Linked DNA regions of Homo sapiens. The protein of the gene in region 2 interacts with the protein of the main gene of each other region in a pairwise test. Each region holds a gene or a part of one and is shown on either strand. Other genes may lie near its edges.

The links.
Region 1: the proteins of GSPT1 (region 2) and HINFP interact in a two-hybrid assay, tested with the Homo sapiens proteins (one large-scale study listed by BioGRID).

What each region holds. Positions count from the first base shown.
Region 1 is NC_000011.10:119,131,558-119,134,372, reverse strand, and holds part of HINFP (histone H4 transcription factor), read right to left. Parts: coding exon 2,727-2,815; intron 2,544-2,726; coding exon 2,391-2,543; intron 2,131-2,390; exon of another isoform or gene 2,076-2,130; intron 1,878-2,075; coding exon 1,800-1,877; intron 1,713-1,799; coding exon 1,592-1,712; intron 1,510-1,591; coding exon 1,371-1,509; intron 1,279-1,370; coding exon 1,154-1,278; intron 430-1,153; coding exon of another isoform or gene 290-429; coding exon 1-289. UniProt on the Homo sapiens protein: Transcriptional repressor that binds to the consensus sequence 5'-CGGACGTT-3' and to the RB1 promoter. Transcriptional activator that promotes histone H4 gene transcription at the G1/S phase transition in conjunction with NPAT.
Region 2 is NC_000016.10:11,874,359-11,878,183, forward strand, and holds part of GSPT1 (eukaryotic peptide chain release factor GTP-binding subunit ERF3A), read right to left. Parts: intron 3,223-3,825; coding exon 3,049-3,222; intron 1,818-3,048; coding exon 1,728-1,817; intron 1,572-1,727; coding exon 1,403-1,571; intron 1-1,402. UniProt on the Homo sapiens protein: GTPase component of the eRF1-eRF3-GTP ternary complex, a ternary complex that mediates translation termination in response to the termination codons UAA, UAG and UGA.

The DNA.
Region 1 (2,815 bases), on a different chromosome or scaffold from region 2:
TTGCTGGCCTTGGGCATTGGTCTGATTCACCACGTGGATGACAGAACTGGGGTTGTCCTGAGAGGCTGAGAGGGCTGTCCCTTCGCTACCCTTGCCCTCCTCTTCCTCTTCCTTACGTCCTGGCTCCCCTGGCACTGTTTCTAGAATAATGCCCTGCAGGCTGCTCTCGTTCAGCGACGTTCCCAGGCCCGATCCCTCTTGTGGTTGCCGCAGCAGTTGCTGTGTCAGCTCTACACTCTCGTAGCGAACCAGCTGCAGCCGCATATAGCCATCTTCATGTTCCTTGTACCTGGTGAGGTAGGAGCATAAAGGGCAGCAAACCCAGGCAGGGGGATACAGAAATGGCCGAGGCTGGCAAAGTAAGGAACAAACATGAGGGATGGAAGAAGTCCTGGAATCCAAGTGACAGGAGTTGAAGACAAAAAAGGTCTTTATTGGAATATGTAGAAGAAAAGGCAAGAGGGAAAGATCATTACTCAAAATGGAAAGTTTTATATAGAAACCCAACCAGAAAAACAGAGACTGACTGACTGTGTTGGAGGGTGAAAGTGTCAAAGGATTTATGAGAAGGCCTTGGAGCTAAGGATCAGAACCCTTAGACTCTAGCTCTAGTTCCAGCTGCAGGACTTTTTGGCACCATTTATTGGGTTTGGCACCATGCCTTACAAGATTCAAAAAACAGAAAAATAAGCTTTGCTCCACCATTATTCTTAGGATTCTTTGAATCTAAATGGAAATGGCAGACATAAAACCACCATCAAATTAAGGTTTTATTTATTTATTTATTTATTTTTGAGATGGAGTCTCGCTCTGTCACCCAGGTTGGAGTGCAGTGGCATGATCTCAGCTCACTACAACCTCCGCCTTCTGGGTTCAAGTGATTCTCCCACCTCAGCCTCCCAAGTAGCTGGGACTACAGGCATGTGCCACCATGCTCAGCTACTTTTTGTATTTTTAGTAGAGACGGGGTTTCACCATGTTGGCCAGGCTGGTCTCGAACTCCTGACCTCATGATCCGCCCACCTTGGCCTCCCAAAGTGCTGGGATTACAGGCGTGAGCCACCGCGCCCGACCCAAATTAAGGTTTTTAAAACTGGTTGAAAAGGTATAAAAACAAGTGTGTTAATCTGGGAAGGAGGGTTGAGAGACATACCGAAAACGGGGATGCCCTGAGGGCCACTTGAACTGGTGCTTCTTGCGAAGGTGCACGGTGAGGTTGTTGCCCCGTGTGAAGCATTTGTCACACACATGACATTTGTACCTTGGCTCAGAGTCTCCCTGATGGGGAAGGAAGGGAGAAATGAGACCAGCTCTTCACCCCAGGGTCCCCCATACTTCCACTAGTCCTTCCCAACACCAGCCCCACTCACTTCATGTACTTTGCGGTAATGGGACTTGATAGAGCAGAGGGATCGGGCACTGAAGGTGCAGTTCTCAAAATCACACCTGTAGGCTGGCTCCTCGCTGTGGGTATCCAGGTGCTTCTGGAGGTCAATAAGATTCTTGCAGCTGCCATGAGAAATCAGGAGGGATTGGAGGACATGGGGAACACTGGAACATGAGCTGTTTTCTGGTCCCTGGTCCCCCTTACCTGTAGTCACAACAGTCACATTTAAAGGGCCGGTCCTCACTGTGACGAAAGCGCATGTGGTTGCGGAGGGAGGAAGGCAGCGGGCAGGTCATGTCACACAGAGGGCACTTATAGTGATTCACTGAGAGAAGCAGAGAGGAGGCTGTGATGTGAGAACTTGTGGAACCTTGGAGGGCAGGAGGGAGGCTGTGGGCCGCAGGCCACTCACCATGGTTGCGCATGTGGTCCCGCAATAGCCGCTCTGTGGCAAATCTCTTGGAACAGTGAGAACACTGGAAGTGCTGCTCTGGGGTGGGGCAGGCAGAAGAAAGGAGGGCTGTAGGTGATAGTGGAGAGGCACAGAAAGGAGAGGGGAACCATCCCAGGCAGAAGGGAACCACCCAAGGAGAAAAGGAGAGCTTAGGGAGCTATGAATGGACACAGTATCATGGAAAGAGCATGGGACTTAGAGAACCTGAGTTAGAATTCCAGCTTCACCACTTACTAGCTGTGTGATCTCAGGTAAGTGATTTAACCTCTCTGAGCCTCAGTTTCCTCATCTGCAAAAAGGGGGATAAGAAGCCTACCTCATGGGGCTGTTGTGAGGATTCCCTAAGTAACTGATACGAGGTACAGTAAGTACTGAATAACAATGCCTACGAATCTGAATCAGCAAAGAGACTATGGGAGGTGCCTGAGCCCAAAAAGAAGAGGCAGCCAAAAGGCAGGTCTCTTCAGTGGCCACCCCCACTAGAAACATGCCCCTAACCCATTCCAAGCAGGACAGCCTGCATCCACCCCACTTCCTCTGACTACTTACGATCCAATGAGGTCTGGCGACGGATGTGATCTAAGAACTTGGTATTGTTGGCAAACATGCCCCCACAGGTGGGGCAGGCTACCACTTTCTCCTGGGTATGGCTGCGGAGGTGCTCTCGAAGTTTACTGCGGTCCTTGAAGGTGCAGGTACAGCCTGGGAAGGAAGCCCTATCAGTCTCCTGCCACAAAACCCCAGTTTTGCCTAGGATCTGGTACCCCTGAGTCTCTCCAGCCGGCAGTCAACCTTGCCCCTGTAGGACCCCTATCCCTTTCTGTCCCAGCTCTTCAGGAACCCCAGCGTTTCCTCCAGAAGCCACAAGTTAAGAAGCAGCCCTACCTTTCCAGCCACACAGCACCACCGGGTTGTCCTTGCCGACTGCTTCGTATTCACAGCACAGACTGTGTGCTTCCACATGCCGATAAAAC
Region 2 (3,825 bases):
ACAGTGCAGTGAACACGTCCTTCTGGTAGTAATCCTGTGGACTGAAAGGATACAAAACCCATTGGGTCTTGTGGAAAACCTAAAAGCCAAGTTAGCTTTTTTTTTTTTTTTTTTTTTTTTTTTTTTAAAGCCAAGTTAGCTTTTAGGAAAAAATAATTCTAGGGTTAAGAATTCCTGCTACATTAATTGCTTTTCTTCTGTCTTCCTGATTTTATCAGGTTCTGAGTGGTAAACTAAAACTATCATTTTGTTATATTAATAAGATAAACCCAATAACCAGTTTTACTATCAACCAGAAGAGTTCTGGGCCTTTAAAGTAAAATAAACACTGTCTTTATACAATTTCATCCAATGTAAAGTTCAGGAACTGTATTCATCACCAGGGCTTAGCACAGTTCCTGACACTTTGTAGATACAAAGTAGTTTTTGCTAAATGGAATTGGAATGAACATGTGAAATGACTATTCTGTATTTCAATGGAACTATAAAGTTTTATGTAAAGTCTTCTATAGTCTTAAAATGGTTATCTAAGTTAGAAATATTAACAGCTGGGCCGGGCACGGTGGCTCACGCCTGTAATCCCAGCACTTTGGGAGGCCAAGGCGGGCGGATCACGAGGTCAGGAGATCAAGACCATCCTGGCTAACGTGGTGAAACCCCGTCTCTACAAAAATACAAAAAATTAGCCAGGCATGGTGGCAGCACCTATAGTCCCAGCTACTCGGGAGGCTGAGGCAGGAGAATGGCGTGAACCTGGGAGGTGGAGCTTGCAGTGAGCCAAGATGGTGCCACTGCACTCCAGCCTGGGTGACAGATCGAGACTCCATCTCAAAAAAAGGAAAGGAAAGGGAAGAGGAAAGGGAAAGGGAAAGGGAAAGGAAAAGGACAGGAATATTAAAAGCTCATAAGGAAACGTTTCATAACAATCATTTTGTTTTTATGCCAAAGAACTTCATGACCCCAAGATGGGAATGTTAGTTGTTCTGCGTCACCCAGAGGTAGGCAGAAATGGATGCACACAAAAGGTCACAAAGATTAGACCTCTGAAAAATTAGGTGTAAAAAAAAAAATCAATCTCTATGTTCCTTTTAATCGCTAGACATATTACAAAGGATTACATCATAGAAATATCTTAGTAAACAAAATAGCCCTCCAAATCCACTACTCACAAAACATCAAAATTAAGATTCTTCACGTAGAGCATTACTAGATTTGGCATTACTACTAAAGCACGTGGTCAATTCTGTTCAATACATTCAACTCATAAAACACTCATACGAATAAGAATGTGAATCGAAGTTTTCTGTGAACCTGTTGCAATGTGTACTGTACTGAGATGATGAAGATGACCAAAGCTAGGTATCCTGGATATACTACTAGACGTCAGTTTAAAAGCTCTTACCCTCATCTCTTAAGGTGAAACGACCCATCTGAGGGAAGTCTTTAAAGGTCTCAAGGCAGATGGTTCCTGCTGTCCTTAAGCGAGCAATGCATACTTGATCTTGTTTGACAAAACGGGGTCGGGTCTTACTTTTTTCTCCTGATTTTTTGTCTACCAAGCAGATTAAGGCCTAACCAAGAAAAGAGTATGAGAAAATCAGAATAATGCCAAATAAAATAATCTTTAAGAACAGGTGTAGAAATAAAAGTGCATCACTGTTGCTGATTAGAAATTATGAAGATAAAACAGTATTAAAACAGAAATAAACCAATTATCTTAAACTCACTGTTATTTCCACCTCCTCAATACAGGTATGAATATGCAGCACCGCATTATAGCCTGGGCAGATGATGGATTTGTGCTCTATAATCACTATCTGTCAAACAAACACACACATTCTTATCTTTAGCCTTAGGGTAAATAAGAATTCAATGTTCTCAAGCGCCATATAAATCCCAAGAATTAGTGTTACCATCTCACTAGGACATCAACTTAAGTGATTTTTGTGTTAGAGGTGATAGGTTTGTCTTACTAATTTTGTTCACAGGATGGGTCAGGCTGCTTGAACTCAAAGCATGAATTTCAGTATCTTATCCTGTATTTATCTTCTTGGCAAGTCCCTGGTCAACTTTCAAAATACGGCAGGCTGGCTGGGCGCAGTGGTTCACGCCTGTAATCTCAGCACTTTGGGAGGCCGAGGCGGCAGGGGGGCCGGGGGGATCACCTGAGGCCAGGAGTTCAGGACCAGCCTGGACAACATGGTGAAACCCTGTCTCTACTAAAAATACAAAACAATCAGCCAGGCGTGGTGGTGGGCGCCTAAATCCCAGCTACTCAGGAGGCTGAGGCAGGACAATCGCTTGAATCCCGGAGGTGGAGGTTGCAGTGAGCCAAGATCGCGCCACTGCACTCCAGCCTGGGTGACAGAGCAAGACCCCATCTCCAAACAAAACAAAAGACAGCAGGCCAACTTTCTTATCTGGGAAGACTTTCCTTATATTCCCCAAGGAACTAAGCTAATTTTTACCGCTCAGAAGCTACCTAGATGTAAACTTATCCAGCTTTATCCATTTCTCAATATCCAAGGTCCAGTAAAGTAAACAACCTTACATCTGGCATCAAAATCTAACTTGATTAGTTGTCATACCTTAGAAAAGAACTTTAAAAAATTCTGTTATTCACACCAGTCACTTACTCTGTCATTCTCCCAGGGAGGTTAGATTGTTAATAACAGGGAAACCTGTGTGATTTCTTGTCTGGAAAGCTATGTGCTGTCAATGAGCACATAAACCATGACTTCCACAGTAACTGTGCTCTGGTCAAAGTGAATATTAGATACTGTAGAATGTATCATCAGGAGATCAAACATAAAAAGGAACTTACAAAGAATACTCCTTATCCAGTAAGCACTTGTACCAGCTTGAAGACCTTGTATGAGGTGCCTATTGTGGTTATGATATATAAGTGGCTTATAATATTTCCATTCCCCTTCTCTACACTAAGATGGGTTAACTGGCATGTCACAAATAATCAGGACAAAAGGCACTGATATTCTAATTTCATTTAGACATTAAAACCCACTATGACAACAACAATAATTTGTTTACCTGGGCATCAAATGTGCGTCCAGAATGACAAAGATTATTAGGATCACAAAGTATAAACCCTGGAAGAATCTCCTCTTCTTCAATTCCTTTCAGTCTGATTTTGAGGTTTTCACCTGGGGCTACGGTATCAGTCTCTACATCATCGGAAAGTATTCCAAGAACTTCCACGTTGTGCTTTAAAAGAAAACAAGACTGGAGGTTTTCTGACACATTCACTGCATTACGCAACATAAAATGATCTGAATGTCTGTCTGCTCAATAAAGAGTTGCAAGATTTGACTGTAAACACTTATGTTTGTATGACATAAAATCTTAGCCTAGATATGATCAGCAAAAATCATATCCTAGAAGTATAACTGCCAATTAAAGTATTAACGTGTCACCTTTTAAATATCACATTCTAATCATTTCCAACTAGAACACTGTATACACTAGCATTTGCCTTTTTTTACCTTTTCAAAATCGAAAACACAATTTAATATTTGGATTTCAGTTTTATGGATATAATTTTTATTATTATGGAATTCTATGAAGGATTTAATAAACCTGTCTTCTATTACCTATCAATCTCCAAATATCGGAATTATGCACTACTTAAAAATTATTGAACTAAGCTTTAAAAGTCTATCAACTATTTAATGAATACATCATTTCCTTTTGGTGTAATGAAATGGTCTGGAATTAGATAGTGATGATGGCTGCATAGCATTGTTATTTTTTTATTTTGAGACAGAGTTTTGCTCTTGTTGCCCAGGCTGGAGTGCAGTGGTGCGATCT